3 linked regions of the Homo sapiens genome follow. The protein of the gene in region 2 purifies or fractionates together with the protein of the main gene of each other region. This does not show direct contact. Each region holds a gene or a part of one and is shown on either strand. Other genes may lie near its edges.

Region 1 (7,023 bases), on a different chromosome or scaffold from region 2:
TCTCTACTAAAAATATAAGTCGTGGTGGGTGCCTGTAATCCCAGCTACTCAGGAGGGTGAGGCGGGAGAATCATTTGAACTGAGGAGGAGAAGGTTGCAGTGAGCAGAGATCGCGCCACTGCACTCCAGCCTGGGTGACAGAGCAAGATTCCATCTCAAAAAAAAGAAAAAAATAATTGTTTTTTGTAGAGCAGGTGTCTCACTATATTGCCCAGGCTGGTCTCTAACTCACGGCCTCAAGTAATCCTTCTGCCTTTGCCTCCCACTGTGTTGGGATTACAGGCCTGAGCCACTACACTTGACAGAGGTAAGGCTTCTTCTATTGTCTTCATAAAATACGCAGCATAGTACCCTGGGGCTATGAAATCCACAAAAGCTGACTCAGCATGGACTTTCCAAAGAGGAGAAGAATGAACTAATATGAAACTGAGGCAAAGCAAAGCAAACTAAACAAAAAACGTGCTGACCCAGGACCCCGACATGAGAATTTTCTTAGCCTGGACCTACTTCCTGTATATGGAAATTTCCTGGGTGTTTTGGAATTTAAAAATGATTATGTACTCTAAACCTCTAGTGCCAGTCCTCTGAAGCTGTTTTTTGAAGATCATTAGGTCAGAGAAACCTGATTGCTTGAGAAAGTTGCACTGGTTATCATCTTTTTTTTTTTTTAGATGGAGTCTTGCTCTGTCGCCCAGGCTGGAGTGCAGTGGCACGATCTCGGCTTACTGCAACCTCTGCCTCCCGGGTTCAAGTGATTCTCCTGCCTCAGCCTCCTGAGTAGCTGGGATTATAGACGCCCGCCACCACACCTGGCTAATTTTTGTATTTTTAGTAGAGACGGGGTTTTACCACGTTGGTCAGGCTGGTCTCGAACTCTGACCTTGTGATCTGCCCGCCTCGGCCTCTGAATGCCTGGCCTCACCTTTTTTTTTTTTTTTTTTAATGGAAAGGGAGTCTATGTTTCCCAGGCTGGTCTTAAACTCCTAGCCTCAAGCTAGCCTACCACCTAGACCTCCCAAAGTACTGGGATCACAGGCGTGAGCCACTGCGCCCAGTCGGTTATCACTTTCATAAGACTAGAAAAGACAGTAAGACTCTCCTTCTCCTGTAAATCTTAGAAAGAGTGTAAGGGAACCCAAAGATGTGTCTTAAGCAAATACTCCTAGAGTTCCCCAAGAGACTGGATATTATCAATACATTTATGTATACCTGGCATCCAACTAGAGCAGTTTGCTTTTACAAGAAATGGCATAAAAATTAAAAAAATAAATCCAATGAACTTTCTCTCAAAAAGGCTCCCTGGGAATTCTCTTACAAGATGGGAATTAAAAAAAAAATAAGAAAAACAAGATGGGAATAAAAAGGAGTAGCAATTGATACAATTCTGCTTTATTTTTTTTAGTCCAGATGGGTCACACCTTATGTTCTTGGTTCTGAAAGAGTCCTACAGGGAAAGGTTACTGAAAAGCATCTACCTTTCCTGTGTTGCCAGGACTTAATGGGGAAGGCTGCTGTTTAACTGCCGCAGAATGTTCCCTGAACAGCAGGACTCAGCCGAACTATCATAATATCCATCAGCATTTGCAACGCTAAATAAGATTAGCTGAATCAAAACAGATGTCTTAAAAGACTTGAAATGCTTGAAATGTACAGCTGAACAGATAAAAAGCCATGGGCCGGTATCAATACTGGCTTTTCCTTTTTTTTTAAGGTTTTCTTAGAAAAAAGCTCAGTGTCCTCACAGAATCAAGCTACTCTCTGCTTTTGTTTTATCCCAGGTGTTCCAAGCCAAGTCAGTGCCTGAGAGAGCAGATCTGGAGTCTGGAGTCTGACAGCTTTGGCTGACTCCCGGCTCTCAAGTCACTCTCTATGTGTCCTTGTGGAAGTCCATTACCCTCTCTGGGCCTCACCTTTAAATTGAAGGTAGATAATAAGCACAGTCATCTACCTCATGTCCAGTGCACAGAACAGAGCCGGGCACACAGTCTGGCTCCACGGACATCAGGCCAGTCGGTCTTCACTGCACCCTGTGCAATTTTTGCTATACCTGAGAACCACCTGAATCAACTTTCTTTAAAGTATCTCTTGGGTTTTCTTTAACTTGTTTTGCTTAAATTCACATTAAAAAACCACTTATATCCCTATTATACCATCATTAGTAATTATATTTTTCTTTTTTTTTTTTTTGAGACTGTCTCGCTCTATTGCCCAGGCTGGAGTGCAGTGGCGTGATCTTGGCTCACTGCAAACTCCACCTCCCGGGTTCCTGCCTCAGCCTCCCGAGTAGCCAGGATTACAGGCGTCCGCTATCACGCCCGGCTAATTTTTGTATTTTTAGTAGAGACAAGGTTTCACCATGTTGGCCAGGTTGATCTCGAACTCCTGACGCCAGCTGATCCACCCGCCTCGGCCTCCCAAAGTGCTGGGATTACAGGTGTGAGCCACCGCACCCGGCAGTAATTATATTTTTCTAATACAGAAAATGAATACATTGCTATTCATGTAGAAAATGTTAGTCTGCACACTGCCTCAAATGGGCTCATGTGGCACCAGCAGCACAAGTAACCACATGCTGAGGGAGACACTGTACCAGCCAATCCAGAACACAGCTACCAAGGACATGTCATGCTGGGAGCTGAGGGAGACTCACACATCTCCCCTGCTGGACAAGCATAAGTGCCAGACAGAAACTCTCCACTGCTCCCTTAATAAAAGAGCTCAGCAGCATGGAAGGTGCCAGCCAGCAGGTCCTAGCTAGGCCTTGAAGCGTGGAGCAGCTCACAGGGACCGCCAGATGCAGTAACCACAGGATAGAATGCTCCTGAAGGAAAGTAAACTCAGAAACCAGAACTTGCACCATGGTTAGAATTTTGGATGCATTTACCCAAGAAAAGGAATTAGGTTGCACAGCAAGTTCACCCAGCAGAGAGCTGCAGCTGTTTTCCAGATGTCTCTATCAGCTTTGGCCAGCCCAAGCCTCTTTGGAAGACCACAAGTATCTGGAGCCCAACAGGAATGAAATGCTCACCTTCTCTGCATGATCTTCGGAAGGTCAAAGTAGAGTCAACTTCATTCTTAATCTTGATTAAAGCATCCAATACCATGGGGCCACATCTAACAAAGAAAAATATCCAGTGGTATTTATGTAACGTTCAACCTCCCTACACTTTATCATAATATAATCGGAGACACCTGGATGTATTAGCTTATCCATTTGGTCTTCTCAGGTCACCTTCGGAATTTGTTCTGTAGTTTTGTTTTTGCAGATTCTTACATTTTAAGTACTGCACAGTTCTATTTTGATGATCACAGTGCAAACACATTTCTAGGAAATGGAAAGCTAAAGTAGTAGTAGACAAGTATGACACAACTTCCATACAGTGGCCGAGTTTTTGTTTTTTACTTCTGAAGCTCCCTGCAAAGTTTTTCCAAATAATTTATTTCAAATTTTAGTTTGATTTTTAGGATGTAGACAATAGTTTTAAATAGTAATTAATAATACATAACCATAAGAGAAGACATAGTACAGAGAATAAAAGACACCCAATCACTCACAGTCCCCCAGTCAAATCACTGTGAGCCTCCTAGAACATACAAGGGCAGTGACATGGTACTAAGCGGAGCATCCCTGGGCGTGGGACCTGGAGTGCCGGCCTGGCAGCCAAGAGACTGGTCTGCACCATGGCTGAGCCACTTACCAGCTTGCAGGCAAATGATTTAATTTCTGCCTAGGCATTTAATCCACTGAGTGCAGAGAGCAGCACCTGCATCCCACAGGATTGCTGGAGGTGAGTTAATACACACGAGATCTTTACAGCAGCATCTGACATATAAATCATAGTTTAACTATAATAATCATCATGCAGAAACTGTGATTCTACGGAAATTACTCTCTGAACCTCAGTTTATCTGTAGAGTTAATATTTACACCACAGGGTTACTGTGAAAATTACATAAAAATATGTAATTTTTCATAGTACCTGGCATACAGTAAGTGCTCCACAAATCTATTTTCTGGTTGCCACCCTGCCCCCATTCCACTCACTAATTTTCTATGCATGAGATTAAAAATATACTTAAAAATACGTCATTTCCTTTAGTACTATCTGTATTTCATTTTTTTTCTTTTTTTTCTTGAGACGGGGTCTTGCTCTGTTACCCAGGCTGGAGTGCAGTGGCACGATCTCAGATCTGTAACCTCCGCATCCCAGCCTCAAGAGATCCTCCTGCCTCAGCCCCCCAGTAGCTGGGACTACAGGTATGTGCCACCACATCCAGCTTAATTTTTGTATTTTTTTGTAGAGGTGGGATTTCGCCATGTTGCCCAGGCTGGTCTCTAACTCCTGGACTCAAGTGATCCTCCTGCCTTGGATTCTCAAAGTGTTGGGATTATGGGTGTGAGGCAATGGTGCGATCTCGGCTCACTGCAACCTCTACCTTCCGGGTTCAAGCGATTCTCCTGCCTCAGCCTCCCGAGTAGCTGGGATTACAGGTGCATGCCACCACACCCGGCAAATTTTTGTATTTTTAGTAGAGATAGGTTTTCCCATGTTGGCCAGGCTGGTCTCAAACTCCTGACCTCAAGTGATCCACCTGCCTCAGCCTTCCCAAATGCTGGGATTACAGGTGTGAGCGACTGCGTCTGGCCCATTATCTGTATTTGTATCAGCACTATGTAGACGTCCTTTCTGCTGGACCTCTGCTAACACTGGGAATTGGAAGCTTTAAAAACCTTTGCTATTCTGATACTGGAGAAGTGTTATTGTTTTCAGTGTTTTAAATCGAGACTTTTGAATACTACATAGGTTGAATGTTTGTCATAAATTTACTAATTTTTCTTTATTTCCCAATTATTTATTGAACATTTACTCTGCCAGGTTCTGTTCTAGATGCTGGGGATGTAGCAGAGAATAAAAGAGACGAATACCACCTGCCCGCACAAAGCTCTGTTCCAGAGGACTCATTCTAGAGACTCAGTCTGTCCACATTCTTTGCCTCTGTTTACCAGGGTCTTGGAAATTCTTTTTCATGATCTGAGGCTCTTATATATTATATCTGTTGCCATTTCTGCTTCCTCCCTCACTGCCAATAGTAATGTGCTATTTGACTTCTAATTTTGGTAACAGAATTTTAAACATACATGAGTTAAATGTTTACATTAATAAAGGTGGCTATTCTTTCTTTTATAACATTATCTATCACTTTTAAGCCTAAACAGACCACTGCCCTTCCTGAGGTCTGATAAATACTTTACATTTTTTTCTACTTAAAAAAAATTTTAAGTTACTCCCCTAAAACTGCAAAAACTGTATCAGTTGTCCCAAATCACTGACTAAATCCTCTTTTGCTTCTTATTTGTAATACCTTTCTCCCATATTTAATACTGGGAACTTAGATAAAATTGAGTCTGTTTTGTTGCTACATTTTTATTCTAATGATCTGCCTGTTCTTGTCCTAGCATATTTTAAATGACAACAACATCTTTGTTTTTTTTACATTACAAAGGCTAATATTTGCAGCCTATAAAAATTTCAAATTGGCCAGGTGGGTGGCTCACGCCTGTAATCCCAGCACTTTGGGAGGCACTTTGGGAGGCCTTGGCGGGTGGATCATGAGGTCAGGAGATTGAGACCATCCTGGCTAACGTGGTGAAACCGTCTCTACTAAAAATACAAAAAATTAGCTGGGTGTGGTTGCACGTGCCTGTAGTCCCAATTACTTGGGAGGCTGAGGCAGGAAAATTGCTTGAACCCCAGAGGCGGAGGTTGCAGTGAGCCGAGACCGCACCACTGCACTCCAGCCTGGGAGACAGAGCGAGACTGTCTCAAAAAAATAAATAAATAAATAGATAAATAAATAAATAAATTCAAATCAAAGGTAAAAAGTAATCCTGCAGATCATACTGGGACAGAGAAAAATATTAAAAAGTCAAAGTCCTCTCTTTAAGCTGTTTCATGCTAAATTTCCTAATAGGTAGGGCTCATTAAAGAGTACAACATAAATTTTCTCAGATTTTACATAGATACCAAAATTGTTTGATATTCTGGGTCCCTTGCATTTCTATAAGATTTTTAGAATCAACTTGTCAACTTCTGCAGAAAAGGCAGGTGGGATTTTGATGGGGATTGCAATGAATCTGGAAATCAATTTGGAGACCACTGCCTCCTTAACAACATTAAGTCTTCCAACCCACAAACAGGGCATGTCTTTCCATTTATTTATGTCTTCTTAAATTTCTTTCAACAATGTTTTACAGTTTTTCAGCATATAAGTCTTTTACTTATTTGATTTTTGAGACAGGATCTCACTCTGTCGCCCAGGCTGGATGGAGTGCAGTGTTGTGATCACAGCTCACTGCAGGTTTGACCTCCCAGGCTCAAGTGATTCTCCCACCTCAGCCTCCAAGTAGCTGGGACTATAGGCACAGGAAGGTCATCAAGCCCAGCTAACTTTTTTTGTAGAGATGGGGTTTTGTCTTATTGCCCATATAATTTGTTCCTAAGAATTTCTTTTTTGATGCTGTTATATGGAAAATAGTTTTTAAATTTCATTTTAGGATTGTTCATTGCTAGTGTATAGAAATCCAATTTTTGTTTTTTTAACAGTACTTACAGGCTTTTTTCTAGGTAAGCAGGGTTTTACATATATAAATATAAATATTTATATAAATATGAATATATAAATATAAATATTTATATAAATATGAATATATAAATATAAATATTTATATAAATATGAATATATAAATATAAATACATATATAAATATATATGTATACACACACACACACACATTTTTTCTGTAGAGACTAAGTCTTGCTATTGTTGCCCAGGCTGGTCTCAAAACTCCTGGCCTCAAGCAATCCTCCTGCCTTGGCCTCACAAAGAAAGTGCTAGTATTACAAGTGTGAGCCACCATGCCTAGCCTAGAAAAATACATTTATCTGCTAATATCTGCTACACGCCAGTATTTTCAGAAAAAGAATTATGCTGTTGTGAAAATGAAAGAATATAGCTATTTTTT
Region 2 (7,436 bases):
CGTGTAGACCAGACTCTACATATTAAGTTAGAAGTCCACAACAGTTACTCTTAGTTTGATGTAAACGTAACCATTAAGTTATATTCAAACAACAGGTGCCAAGTTTGTAATGAGCACTAACTGAAAAATAAAGGCATAAAAATCCATGTCATGTCTAGCAGTATCTAGTATAACATAATCATAAATTAGATATTTTGAAGAACAGGTGGGGGGGAAAAAGACTTGGAAGTCTTAAGTATATTACTCTCTGGTGATAAAACTTCTCTAGCCAGGTTTTTCTCCCCTCCAATCATTAGCATCTTCTCTAGCCCTACTCTTTCAAAAAGACCAGTTCTTCAAGTATCTTTCCTGGTAGGATCCAACCTACCACGTCTAACTCCCAGGCTTAGATTAAGCTGCCTTGTAACTGTGATAATTATGTTATACAAAGAGATTACTACGTTTAAATTTATCTTTACCCAGCTGCCAATTCATTAATTCCAGTAGATCAACAATGGTCGGGGAAGACAGGAAAACTGTTCTCTACAGACGCGTGTCAACTAATAAATTCAGAAGGAATGAGGGAAACAAAAGAGCCACCATTGGAACACAATGGCAAAATCCATCAATGAATGCTAAGACTAGTAATCATCTGAAAGCCTGAGAGTACCTACCCCCAAATATGTATTAATTTCAAAAGAGAAAATAGTAAGTTTACAGTAGAGACACCACGTGGATTATTACTTTAACCAAGTGATCACAGTTATCATCACCAGTAAGAAGTCATGTTAGTATCATGTGCCCTCTGACATTAAGTGTTGAGGCGAACACTTTGCCCATGTGGTATTCTTACTGAGATGTTATGAAATGCATAACATCAATTTAACCATGAGAAAACATCAGACAAACTCAAATTGAGATACATTCCACAAAGTAACAGACTAGTACTTTTCAAAAAAGTATCAAGGTAATGAAAGATAGGAAGACGGAGCAACTGTCACAGAATGGAGATTAAGGAAAAAGAATAACTAAATGCATTGTAGAATCCCCATTGGATCCTGGAACAGAATAAGGACATTAGTGAAAGGGCTGGCAAATTGTAAATAAAGTCTGTAGTTAACAGCATTGTAGCAATGTTAATTTCTTGTTTTTGATCACTGTACCCTGATTATGTAAGATGCTAACACAGGGGGAAACAGGATGTAGGGAACTCTCTACTGTCTTTCTAACTCTTCTGTATGTCTAAAATTATTCCAAGTTTTAAAAAGCTCAATCCCAGTTACCAAGCCTACTAGGTCAACTAACACATTTTTTATTTATGCAGTTCTTTTTTATACCCTCTCTCTCTCCTACAACCTATTATCAATTTTTTCTGAGTTGCTACTCTTTCCTACTTTTTCCCAAAGAGGCTTCCATGTGCTTACATTTTAAGACTTCTTAAAATAACCTTATTTCCTCCCAACAGAGAGCTACTCTCCTTCCTGTACGGCCACAAAATGACCTACCATAAAAGATGTAAAATACTTTAATACAGTATCTTATAGCTTCATAACAATTAGCAATACACAAGTGCTTGTAAATACATTTACATACGTAAATTTTGAGATGCATAAACACTTATTATTTTATAGATGAGAAAATAAGACTAGAAAAATTATGTGATCTGACACTTAAAATGTCAGAGACTGAATCTGAATCCAGTTCTTCAGGCTCCAAAACCAAATTACCTTATTAAAATAAAGTGCTCTGTGTCTGAAAAGCTTCAACTTCCCTGCTTCAGGCAAGCGAATTACATCAAATACACCATGATTTTCAAGAAAGTTCTAAATTTCCCGATTGTTCTAAATGTCGCTCTTAAAAGCTTCAATAATTATACAAAAAAGAATTCTGGAAGTCAGTGCAAAGTTTGTGTTCACCCTAACCATTCTTTTGATTTTTTTTTACAAAGCCGACTTCAGTCATCTCCCCTTCAACTATTTAGGCCGAAGAACCGCTTACCTCTATTTTCATATCAGCTCCAACTCATGCTTTCAAATATCTGAGCTGTCATTCCAATCTCTAATTCCATTCATTTATTTATATTTGCAAATGAAAACTAGGGGCAATCCTGCAGGGCCCCGAGCCCCACGAAATACTCTGAATATCTTTTTTCCTTTACTCAAAAAAAAAAAAAAAAAGTCAAACGACTTATTGCTAATGCATGTGTCTGTTTAATATTTAGCGCAATGGTGCAGGGCGAAGTAACAATGACTTGAGACCGGAGGAAACAACTTTCGCCTGACTTAACTGCCACCAGCATTTTTCTCCTTCACAGTTTGTAATCTCCAACCTTTTGTAATCTTTTTCATGTTACCTGATTTCTGTATCAGCCAAGTGAGAAAATTATTTAAACCCAACCAAAAGCGCTGAGATTAAATAATAAATTACGGAAATAAGCCTTTAAATTTGAAAACTAATAAGAGAACCATTAATTTATTAATGGGCGCTTACTAGGTGCAAAGGCACTTAAAAGGACAAAAAGCTCCTGAGGTTTTTGAGCACTTAACGACGACTTGCTCATTTTTGTGACCTCCTACCCTCACCCTTTGAGCACCTGGCATCTGCAGGAGCTCAAAAGTTGAACTGAATTGGGGACGCTGAAGTAACAGGATCTGCTCTAGTGAGAAACCCGTGGGAGAAACTTTGGAAAGTGTTACCTGAACAGCATTACGCTATTTCAAACAGAACAGGTTGCTGCTCTGTTTAACCCCGCATGGGGGACTGGAACTAGAAACCTGGACACCGAGGAACCCCAAAGGTCTTGGGCAAAGAGAAGGGAGCGTCACTTGCCTCCCATTCTTGCAAGAAACGCTGTGCCTCGTCAGAACCAACGGTCTTATGTCTCCTAAATTCGTCTTTCACGTACTGGTCGCCCAGGGATTTGAGGTCCGGGGGCAGAACACGGTGCAGCTGCAAGACGCGCTTGTACAATGCCCGGACTCGAGAAACGTGCCGCCCCGGCATAGCGCCCCACGCCGACCGCCGACTGCGCCTGCGCAGAGGGACGGCGCGTTCCCGCACTTCTGCGAACTTGCGTATTAGTGAACCGGAAGGCAGACGAAAGAGGGCGCGCGACCTCTATCCGGTTTGGTCCCTTGCACAATCAGGTCCTCCCGGAAACCCAAGCTCCGCTGCGGGCGGAAAACGGGTCGGTCCTTCTCTAGGAGGGGCGTGGCCCTCGTGGAGTCGCGCCTGCGCCTCGTCGTGGCTTCTTCTGGCCTGCGTCCTGACGACACAGGCCTTGAAAGAGAGAGGTCTGTGGTGGGCCGTTGTCATTTCTCAGTCCCACTCCACTGTCTTTTTCATTCAACTTCGTTTCTGTCCTCCTACCAAAGGCCTGAGAAAAGCTTCGTTAAGATCGGGCTCCTCCGGGATTCCTTCCATGGTTCCCAACCCATTTGAGGCATTTAGAGTATTACTGCACCCTGCTTTAGGGATCAGAGTGAGATTAATCTCGCCATCCACTAGCTCACCAACCCACGCTCTTTGCACAGCGCTGTTCTCCCAATTTATACTCTGGGCATGGGCTCTTCCTTGCAAACAACCCAAGTGAGCCCAGAGCTGGCGGACTCCTTAGCCAAAGTCAAGTTGGCTGCTGAAGGATCCTTGGGAAGAGTTTTAAACGTATTGTTTCCAGGACCACGACCCTGGAGATTCTGGTTAAATAGTCTAGGATAATAAGAACGAGGAATCTAGAAATTTACAAAGCTCTATCTTTTGCGAAGGTAATACTGAGAGTAGAACTGGTTTCCAAAGCTGGCAGCTCCTTGTGTTGTCCTTTCCTGTCACACGTTTGGTTCTTCAGCAAATCCTGATGGCGTCACCAACAAAAATGCAGAAATCAACCATTTCGCCCCATGTACTCTACCACAATCTCTCTCCACTGGATATTGTGTTAGCTTCCATATCTGTGTTCAGCTTCTGGTCATGACCAACTTTGGTCATGCTCCAACATAATTTAAATTAAATTTGGCCTAAAATTTCCTCCCTACTCTGAGTTGCTATGTAGGGAACTGCAACCTAACTTAGTATGTAAATTAACTGCAACTGAGAGTATATTCTTGTGACAAGTAGCTGAGCTTCAGCCAATCACAGGCTGCCAACTGATCAGACTATGTGCATATAAGGCAAATACGTCATAATGTCCTGCCCAAATAAGACTAGCCCAACTGTAAGCAATCAAGCTGTTTCTGTGGGGCACTTCCTTTTTCTGTCTATAAATACTGCCTGCCCACAGTGCTGGGTAGAGCTCTCTGAACCTCTCCCTGTTAAGTGCTGCTGCCTGATGAATGCCTCATAAATCGTGTGTGTGTGTGCACGTGCGCTCGTGCAAATAAACTTTATTAGATTTAACTTGTTTAAAGTTTTTCTTTTAACAATCTAAACTGTAAATCGGATCATTTCACTCCTCTGCTCAACAAAAGCCTCCAGGGATTTTCATCAGAGTAAAGCCCAGTCTCTAGCCCTTAAAGGTTTAAATTTTCTCCTATTGCTTTCTCCCTAGTTAGCCAGTTGCAGCCACACTGGCCTCCTAGCTCTTAGTTCATATTTTAAAAAGCCAGGTACACTCCCAACTGAGGCCTTGGCACTTGCTGTCCCGTCTACTTGGAGTGCTTTGCCAAATGTATCTTCCTGGCTAACACTTTTATTTCACTCAGCGCATACTTCAGGTCCCCTTCTAATGAGACCCTCCCTGGCAACCCTATTTGAAACCCTGCTTGAAGTTGCAACCTCACCAAACCAAGAATTTCTTATGCTCCTCCTCTGCTTTGTTTCTCTCTATATTACTTACATAATTTACTCATGTGCTTATTCTCCATTTATTATCCCCCAACTAGAGTACAAATTCTATAGGGGCAGGGATTTTGTGATTTGTTAGTGACCTGCACTAGGTCTGTAGTAAGCACTCAATAAATATCTGTTGAATTAATGTGTGAAACTCACTAACGGTGTCAGATGCCTCATATTCCTGCTGGTGAAGAAGAGGCAGAAATGTTGAAATTTGTGTGATTGTCTCACAGACCCCAGACTTCTTTCTGTGCAAAAACTTTCTGAAAGAAAAACAAGACACACTCAGCTACTGAAGGCAGGTACTTACTCATTTTAGTATCCTTTTCAGGGCCCACCACAGTGCCATACAAATAGTAAGTAGAATTTATTGCTTTGAATAGAGCTTCTCCTTTTGCTTAAATTTAGGGAAAATATGTGTTTTAAAAAACACAGAACTTTTTAAAAATGGATTTAATTTGGTATTATGACAAACTGCATTAATGGCAAGGATTGAATGGCAGCGTGGTTATTTTGCTTCAGGAAATTTTTTTCTAACCATACTTCATCTGTTAATATCCCTGTAAAATTGAAAATTGATTTCTTGTCCCCGTTTGTTTTTTTCTGGTTTCCTTTGGAGTTAAAGAACATGTGTAATAAATACCTCTTTCAAGAGCCAACACTCTTATAAAAATGTGAGAAAACATTCTGCCAATGAATTAATTAAAAAATAAAGGAATTAATTGAGCCTAAAGAGAGTAGAAAGGGTCCACAAAGCATTGGAGAATCAATGCTCAAAATGGCAGACGATGGGTGAAAGAGAAGCCAAGACATAGTGGTGTGGTTAGGCCTTGAGAAGTGGAATAAAGCAATAACAGTGAGAATAATGACAGTTAACCTTTATTTTATTTTTTTTACAACAAGCTGGACAGTGAGCTATGTTTTGAGGACAAAACTTTTCTCTGTTTCCCTGACCAATTTAGGCTGATCAGTGTTCCTCTTGTGGTAAAAATAGCCATGAACTGAAAATAAAATCACACTTATATTTCTGGCCACCAATCTAGATCACTACACTTCATGCAGACCTTTCCTTTATCCTTCCTTCATGTGTTTCTTTTTCTTATATGTTACTCTGCAAGTGATTTAACCGCTCTGTGCCCAGATTTTCTCACTTGTAAATGAGCTGGGTTAGGTAATTTGCAGTACTTTCCAACTTTACTAATCTCTAACCATGACTTCTCTCAGATTCCCTCCAAAATTTTTTGTAAAGTGAAAGAGAACATATATCCACTCTTAAATAATTGCTTTAAAAATTTTTTGTTTAGAAAAACGTGGGGTAAATGCCTTAAAATTGTATATGGAACACATCACCTAAGCCTTTCAGGGCACACAAAATATAATAACCACCTATAGCCATAGGGATGATCAACACAGCAACTGCACTATTCAGTGTATTGCTTCTGTGGACTACCTCACACACAGCTAGAAATGGAAGGAGGCAGCTAGGGACAATTTTTGGCAAGCAGATAGAGAATTTTGAGGTCAAAAGAGATGGAGAGAATTGGTAAATGAGGAAAAATAAATTAAAGGAGAAGAAATACCTGTATGGAGTGTACTGAATTTTCACTTTGTATTATACTCTAGTCTTTACTAAAATGTTGAAAATAAGACTTGCTTGCAAATAATGCTAAAGCATTTTTCTCTCAAACGGAAGTGAGAAAGGAGTGGGGAGGGGGAGAACTGATGACAAAAGATTTGGAAGCTGCTTTACATCATTAGATAAGAAAACAAGGTTTTTACAGTCTTGAATTCAGTTGCACAAGTGGCTCAGTTTTCAAATTATAGTTACTCAAATTTCAAGTTCTAAATTACTGAGAACAATGAAAAGTCTGGGACAAGATACATCTTCAACCCAAACAGCTCTCACATGCTTAGAGGCCTAGAGAGATGTACAAACCTGATCTGGCCATTGCGACTACCCATGGTCCCCCAAAACAACACCAGAAATTGTCTTTCATTTCCCACCTTACCTTGGAGTCTCAAAGTTAGGTACATCATTGTGTGACGATTAAAACTATAAAAAGAAAAGAATTCTTTAACGTTTTTAAATGGTATCTGGTATGTCTAATTATTGAAATGCAATGGTAAGATAGCAGATAGTCTTAAAACCAAAATTTCAAGCTTAAACATACTGTTCAAGGAATTAGAAAAGCAAATACATTCATGGAAAGTCCATTCTCTGAAAGTCAGTTTAGAAAGCATAATAGTCTTTAGCATTTTTCTGAATTTCTGAAACATGTTACATAAAAAATACCAGAGACGGGAGGCTGAGGCAGGAGAATGGCATGAAACAGGGAGGTGGAACTTGCAGTGAGCCGAGATTGCGCCACTGCACTCCAGCTTGGGTGACAGAGCGAGATACCGTCTCAAAAAAAAAAAAAAAAATCAAAGAGAAACTTAATGTGTTTGTATCTGGAGAGAAAAAGCAAACCATAAGGAATGTTTTTAAATGTTTATAATTGTTGATTACTGAGAACAGAAAATCAATCGAAAGTCCAGATAAAATGTTATATTTTATAATTTAAAGTATTAATGATATACTATAAGATATAAGGAGGAAAAAAATGACCATTGTTCATAAGCTGAAAAAC
Region 3 (7,198 bases), on a different chromosome or scaffold from region 2:
TCACACCATATACAAACCATCAATTCCTGGTAGAATAAAGGCTTAAATGTGAAAAGCAAAACTATAAACCTTTGAGAAGAAAATATAAGAGATTATGTCCATGACTTTAGGGTACAGAAGGGTTTCTTAGACAAGACCACAAGGCAGTCACAATAAACAAAAGGATCAAGACAAAATTTTATAGATAAAATTATAAACATCTGTTTATTAAGATACCTTTTATATTGAAGCTGCATGATTACACATGCAGACCCGTTATTCTATTCTGCCTAGCAGTGACAGAAACAAACCACAAATTGAGGTATTTGACACTTACGTAACTAAAAAAGGTTTAGCATACAAATATATGTAAAGAATATAAATAAGAAGCAATCTGTTAAGAAAAAAGGCCGGGCGTGGCAGCTCACGCCTGTAATCCCAACACTTCGGTAGGCCGAGGCTGATAGATCACCTGAGTTCATGGCAAAACCCTGTCTCTACCAAAAATACAAAAAATTATCTGGGTGTGGTGGTGGGCGCCTGTAATACCAGCTACTTGGGAGGCTGAGGCAGGAGAATCGTTTGAACTCAGGAGGCAGATGTTGCAGTGAGCTGAGATCTCGCCATTGCACTCCAGCCTGGGCAACAAGAGTGAAACTCCGTCTCAAAAACAAAGAAAGAAAAAAGAGGCCGGGTGCGGTGGCTCACGCCTGTAATCCCAGCACTTTGGGAGGCCGAGACGGGCGGATCACGAGGTCAGGAGATCGAGACCATCCTGGCTAACACGGTGAAACCCCGTCTCTACTAAAAATACAAAAATTAGCCGGGCGTGGTGGCGCGCGCCTGTAGTCCCAGCTACACGGGAGGCTGAGGCAGGAGAATGGCGTGAACCCAGGAGGCGGAGCTTGCAGTGAGTCGAGATCGCGCCACTGCACTCCAGCCCGGGCGACAGAGCGAAACTCCGCCTCAAAAAAAAAAAAAAAAAAAAAGAAAAAAGAAAGAGGTATTTCACAAAAAGTGAATATTTGAAAAGATGTTTTACTTCTTTAATCAGAGAAAAGCAAAATCACAATGAGGTGTCATTTCATTTCCCTGTAGGCAGCCAAAAATTAAAACCTAAGGCAAAATTAAGTTTCGGCAAGTTTGTGGAACAACAGAACTCCAATACACTGCTGGTAGAAGTGAAAATTGCTATAGAATTAGAAAATGCCGTTACACCTTGGCATTATATTGTAACAATGAAAAGACCTATAACATACTCCAGGAATTCTACTCCTTCCACTAATGCACAAATAAGGTACACAAGAATGTGTAGCACCCAATCCTAGTGTTTCTGGAATTACCCAAATGTCCTTTGAGAAGGGCACTGGAAAATGCATCATATGTTCACACAGTTGAATGAATAACTACAACCTCATGCGTCAATGTGACTCAATCACAAAACACAGCGTTATCTGAAAAAAAATCAACAATATGAAAACATTTCTATAAAGATTAAAAACACCATTGCACAGTTGTATCAGGAAGCAGCAAATAGAGACCTCCTTGGCAATAGAGACTATTTCTTAAATTGGAGTATAAGTTCATAGATGCTGGTTGTGCTTCATAGCTTACATGACTGCTACATAGCTTACATGTGTGCTACGTGTGTGTGTGTGTATACATATATATATATGGAATAATTCATAATTGTTTAAAACTAGTTAAAGGGGGATGTTGAATGAACCCTACAAAATTTTAACGTTATTACCTTGAGGTTTGGATAATGTAGGACTTTCACTTTCTGTATTATTCATTTCTGGACTATTTAAAACTTATACAATTAAGTAAAATGTTTGTATTTGGGTAAAATGATTGCACAAAGGAAAACAAATTGCATAGAAATCTGGCACCATTTGAGGGCAATAATTACTGTTTTCAACTTACATAACTTCTCCAGGTGTCATATATTAAAATTATGTTTTGCGGACCGGGCGCGGTGGCTCACGCCTGTAATCCCAGCACTTTGGGAGGCCGAGGCGAGCGGATCACAAGGTCAGGAGATCGAGACCATCCTGGCTAACACGGTGAAACCCCGTCTCTACTAAAAATACAAAAAATTAGTCAGGCACGGTGGCGGGCGCCTGTAGTCCCAGCTACTCAGGAGGCTGAGGCAGGAGAATGGCGTGAACCTGGGAGGCAGAGCTTGCAGTGAGCCGAGATTGCGCCACTGCACTCCAGCCTGAGGGACAGAGCGAGACTCCATCTCAAAATAAATAAACAAATAAATAAATAAATAAATAAAATTATGTTTTGCATAGTCTGGGCTGCTAACTGTATTATCTTGAGAAAAATTTCCAACAACAATGGGTTTAAAAATGTTGGTTTTACTGAAAGCATGAATGCTTTTTCTGTACTGACAATTCCTGGCTTCATCTAATTTACGTTATACTTATTTGCCTTTGGCTCACTTCTGCACTTTTCCCATTTTTAAAAGATAAACTGTAAACTGCCACAAATCCTTTTCTGCTGGAGCCTGGACCAGGAGCGCGGATTCCTGTAAATAATGATGTAAATAAATAAGTAAATCAATGACTCCCATTCCCAAAGGGCCTTCTTTTCCATTTTTCTCTGGGGCATCGAAGTGCGGTGTGCCCTGCGAGCTCCCACAGGAACAACCCGGAACGTTTGTGGTCCTGTTGGGCCACCGCGTGCTCGGTAGGAAGCGGACGTCCCGGGGGCTGAAAGGGCCTTAGCGATTTTCTCGCTCTAGTCCCACCCGAGACCCGGGGCGCTGCAGGAACCTGCCCAGGCCACCGGGTGGGCGGCTGGGCGGGAGAAGCTGGGCAGCCCCTGGCAACACCGAACGGCCAGGACACACGCGGCTTCCTCCGCGGGAGGCGCTTCTCTCTGCGCCTGGGCCTTCACGACCCCTCCCGCGACCGTGGCCCCGAGGCCAGGTGCTTACTTGCCGCTCTCCACGCCGTGGCCGAGACCCAGCTAAGCAACCAGGGAAGCCTCGATGGGGTCATGGCGCCGACTCCCCGAGCCTCCGCGCAGGCGCAAAGCAGTAGTGGGAGGAGCAGGGGGCATGATCCGGAGCCTCCCTGCAGAGGGCGGGGCCTCCGTGGCCGGCTTTAGAAAAGGAGTTAGAGGCATCCCTGGGCTCTTTGGCCAAGAGAGACCCAGGCTACCTTGAGCCCGGTGTTAAAACGCCAAATCGTGGCTGCAGTTAGAAGAGGGAATAATTCCGTTCCGTTCATGCTTGTCAGTCTGAGCCGAAATGGCCCGTGGAAGATCCCTTTTATAGTTTACAAAGATTGAGCACCTTTTACTCTCTCACTCATGTAAAATGCTTCTTTTACCTAATTCTCCCTGTTTTGTGTTTTAAATCTTTGTTCAGTCAGCTCCTAGTTCGTCCATTCTGACCGACTAACCAGATGATATGAAAGGCGACATTTTTGAATGAGGTGCAAAGCAAGAAAAGGCTCTCCATCCAGGCCAGGATCCAGTGCAATGAGCTCTGCCCCTTAACCCTTACATCCCACCAGCTCTGATAGCGTTGAGTGGATGTGGCAGACCTGGATGCTTTGTGCAACTCGTGGAAATATTTACAGAATCATAGTGAAGGCCCCCAGAATTCTGGAATTTTGTCTTTTCTTTTAAAGAAAAGTTTCTGGCTAGCTATTGCGCCTTGGTAGTGTCTGACCATGTGACATCAAGTGGTTATACGATCGAAGCTTCTTATCATGAACTGAGAATTATCTGGTTCTCCTAGATAAGGAGATCCTTTTACGAAGAGAAAGTGGGCCGGGCAAGGTGGCTCACTCCTGTAATCCGAACACTTTGGGAGGCCGAGGCGGGTAGATTACCTGAGGTCAGGAGTTCGAGACCAGCCTGGCCAACACTCTACTAAAAATACAAAAATTAGCCGGGCGAGGTGGCACATTCCTGTAATCCCAGCTACTTGGGAGGCTGAGGTAGAAGAATCGCTTGAACTCGGGAGGCGGAGATTGCAGTGAGCAGAGATCACGCCACTGCACGCCAGCCTTGGAGACAGAGCAAAACTCCATCTCAAAAACAGAAAAAGAAAAAAGAGAGAAAGTGGGATACACAGAACTGGGCCAAAGTCAAAACGGAAACAGTTTTCATTTGTAGGGAGCTCACAGTCCTAATATCATGCTTTTGACCTTTAGCTTATATCTACAGTTTAATAATGAATTCCTTGTGACTAGCTGACTGAGGAAAAAATTCAAAGTCGGATGATGGCTTTGCTCAATAAACTGGCCCAGCTGGCAACTGACTGCTTTTCATATTTAGAGCCCCACTTAACAGAGGCCCTGAAGGAACAGAACAGGGAAAAAAAATTATTTCCAGCATGCATAATTTAGCTTATTTATGTATTTTATGTTTTTACAGGCACATGTCACCACACCTGGCTGATTTTTCTATTTTTAGTAGAGACAGGGTTTCGCCATGTTGACCAGGCTGGTTTCAAACTCCTGGCCTCAAGGGATCCACCCCTCTCAGCTTCCCAAAGTGCTGGGATTACAGGTGTGAGCCACTGTGCCTGGCCAGAATTTAGCTTATCTTGTATGCTTTGCCTAAAAAGAGACATGGCTTGAGATAAAAATCGACATTTCATAGGCAGTGACTGGTTTGTCAAGTGGCTGGGAACTGGGAATGTAAAAGTTTTGGACTGGGTCTTTGGAATAGGACCTCTCAAAGTGGTCCCAAAGCATGAAAACATTTGGGTCCTATTGAACGTTAAAAAAAAAAAAAAAAAAAAGAGCTTCCATTGCAGAAGGGCTCTTAATCAGAACAAGATTATTAGTTATCTATTGCTGCCTCACAAATTATCCCAAAATTTATTGGCTTAAAGCAATAAACAGTTATTCTCTCACAGTTTTTGTGGATCAGTAACCTAGAAGCCAGAGTGACTGTGGTTCTGGGTCCTAAATGAGGTTGCAGCCAAGCTGTTGGCTGAAGTCCCAGTCTCGTATAAATGCACAACTAAGGGAAGATCTGCTTCCAAGCTCATTCACATGATTATTGGCAAGATTTGGTTCCTTGTGGACTTTGGACTGGAAACCTTCTCAGTTATTTGTTAAGTGGGCTTCTCCAAAGGCTATCTTGCAACATGGCAGCTGGCTTTCCACAGGACAAATGAACTAAGGAGCAAGAAAGACCACTCAAAATGGAAGCCCTGAACTTCTGTAATCTCATTTCGGTAGCGACATCCCACCACTTCCACTGTATCCTATTATTAGGTCCCGGCCACTCTCAAAAGGGGATTACACAAGGGCTGCAACAGTGACCCATTCTGTGGACATCAATTACTCAGCCTCCTTCCCCCACAACAGGTGTGGACTCAGTAACAAGGTAGCCACGGTGGCAAGAATGGAGACATACATGTACTTTTAACACCGTCTTTCTTCTGCCATGACTGATTGGCTACTACCACTACTCGCCAACTGCAGTGACCAACTTGATCCCATGATACACTTTTATGTGGTCTGGGTGGCAGGTCTGATTACAATGAAATCCTACTGTTATGAAGGAGGTTGCAATTTGTTCTTACAGGAAGAGACAATTATTCTGCATTTAGATTGTTTTCCCTGATTTATGCTTATTATATACTTCACCTGTGGACTTACTGAATACCTTAACACACTACTCCATATTTAATACAATATCATATACAACATTGCTTCTTACCGAAGAACTCATTTTCTTGTGAAAGATGTAAAGCAGGGGACTAATGCCTGCAGGATTCACAGTCTTATATATTCCATCATCCAAAAGCAACCGATTTTATGGAATGACGGACAGCCTTATTGAAGGTTGTTTTGGAACGAGGTGAGAAAATACACTTTGGGATACTGCCCTAAAGGATTTGTCATATTTTCCAAATGAGTCAACGGTATTTGGTGATATATCTTCTGTTGACAGAATAACAGAGATCAAAGAGTAGAAAAGGGTCTGACTTCTTACTATTGCATATGACTTACTGATATAAAATATATTTTGCTTTCCATTGTAGTAGAGAAGAGACAAGCTCCGAAGGCCCCTGAACATGCCTGTATATTATTACTGAGTGTGCCAGACTGCAAGCCGTATCCATCTCCTGATGCTAAGCAGTTTCTGTAGTTAGTCATATAGGCACCTAAGTAGGTCAAGGCAATCACAGCATTACTACCATTTAACTGCTGCTCCCTGGGGGAGAGAGACTAGCTTGTTTGTTGTTTGCTCAAAAACTGCTTGATTCTTGATCCTGGATTCTTCTGTAATGCAACCCCCCATGTGCACAGACGTCATCCGGCCCTCTGCATCACACTGTGGGAATTGGGCTACGGGAACTGATGCAAATATGCGGACACTCTGGCTTCTATTTTGCTGTAATAAAGCTGTTTTGTCTTTTGTCCAGGAGTATCCTGTCATCATCCATGAAACTGCAGCAACCTAGCCTGTAACCTTGCAAGTAGGATAAAATCTCAGACCCTTCACTACTCTTGCTAGCCATCTCTGAGTCCAGGTTCTGTTGGTATAGCAATTTTTGTGCCCAGCTGGAATTGCCACCCAGCCATTTTGACCTCATTCCTCTAGGTAAGGTTAGAGAAAGTGGTGATGGTGCTAGCTGGAGTGATTGGCCCTGATGACCATGGAGAAAAGAGAGTAGGGAGAACAGTATAACCAGAAGTCAGGGGGGTCTCCTGGAATCCCTCCTCACAATACCATGTTTTTATATTTTATTTTAAAAAATACCATGCTGAATGGTAACATTTACATATAAGACTATTACAACCATATATAGGCAAGACCACCCACACCTCAGATCCTCTGTCATCCACTGGATACATAAATCTGATCAGCAGAGGTGCTGCTTGAACATAAAGAAAACAGAAAATAGTTGGCAGTGGTGAGAAGTCATAACCATCTAGATTCACGACCACTGACAGGACTAAGTACTGTATTTGCGACGTGTTATTAGAGAAATTTGGGACATAAAACATGCTGCTGCTTTTACACTATCCTGAAAATTCTGATTCAGGTGGTCCGTAATAAGGTCCTAGAATGTGTATTTTTAAAGTAGTCTAGGTAATTCTTGGCACGGACATTGCAAAGCCCTGCTCTATTTTGTTTTCTTCCTCACTGGCTCATGCATGTTTATAAAATTTTCTCTTATTTCATATGTATATATATATTTGAGTTGGGGGGTCTCCCTGTCGCCCAGGCTGAA

What was found. Proteins that work in one complex are often made in the same cells at the same time.
Region 1: the proteins of SDHAF3 (region 2) and SDHB purify together in Homo sapiens (affinity purification with mass spectrometry; 3 studies listed by BioGRID and IntAct, with this or other methods). This does not show direct contact.
Region 3: the proteins of SDHAF3 (region 2) and SDHAF4 purify together in Homo sapiens (affinity purification with mass spectrometry; 3 studies listed by BioGRID and IntAct, with this or other methods). This does not show direct contact.

What each region holds. Positions count from the first base shown.
Region 1 is NC_000001.11:17,030,032-17,037,054, forward strand, and holds part of SDHB (succinate dehydrogenase [ubiquinone] iron-sulfur subunit, mitochondrial isoform 1 precursor), read right to left. Parts: intron 3,115-7,023; coding exon 3,029-3,114; intron 1-3,028. UniProt on the Homo sapiens protein: Iron-sulfur protein (IP) subunit of the succinate dehydrogenase complex (mitochondrial respiratory chain complex II), responsible for transferring electrons from succinate to ubiquinone (coenzyme Q).
Region 2 is NC_000007.14:97,113,270-97,120,705, reverse strand, and holds the start of SDHAF3 (succinate dehydrogenase assembly factor 3, mitochondrial precursor), read right to left. Parts: upstream 3,009-7,436; 5' UTR 2,983-3,008; coding exon 2,809-2,982; intron 1-2,808. UniProt on the Homo sapiens protein: Plays an essential role in the assembly of succinate dehydrogenase (SDH), an enzyme complex (also referred to as respiratory complex II) that is a component of both the tricarboxylic acid (TCA) cycle and the mitochondrial electron transport chain, and which couples the oxidation of succinate to fumarate with the reduction of ubiquinone (coenzyme Q) to ubiquinol.
Region 3 is NC_000006.12:70,562,733-70,569,930, reverse strand, and holds the start of SDHAF4 (succinate dehydrogenase assembly factor 4, mitochondrial precursor), read right to left. Parts: upstream 3,002-7,198; 5' UTR 2,991-3,001; coding exon 2,927-2,990; intron 1-2,926. UniProt on the Homo sapiens protein: Plays an essential role in the assembly of succinate dehydrogenase (SDH), an enzyme complex (also referred to as respiratory complex II) that is a component of both the tricarboxylic acid (TCA) cycle and the mitochondrial electron transport chain, and which couples the oxidation of succinate to fumarate with the reduction of ubiquinone (coenzyme Q) to ubiquinol.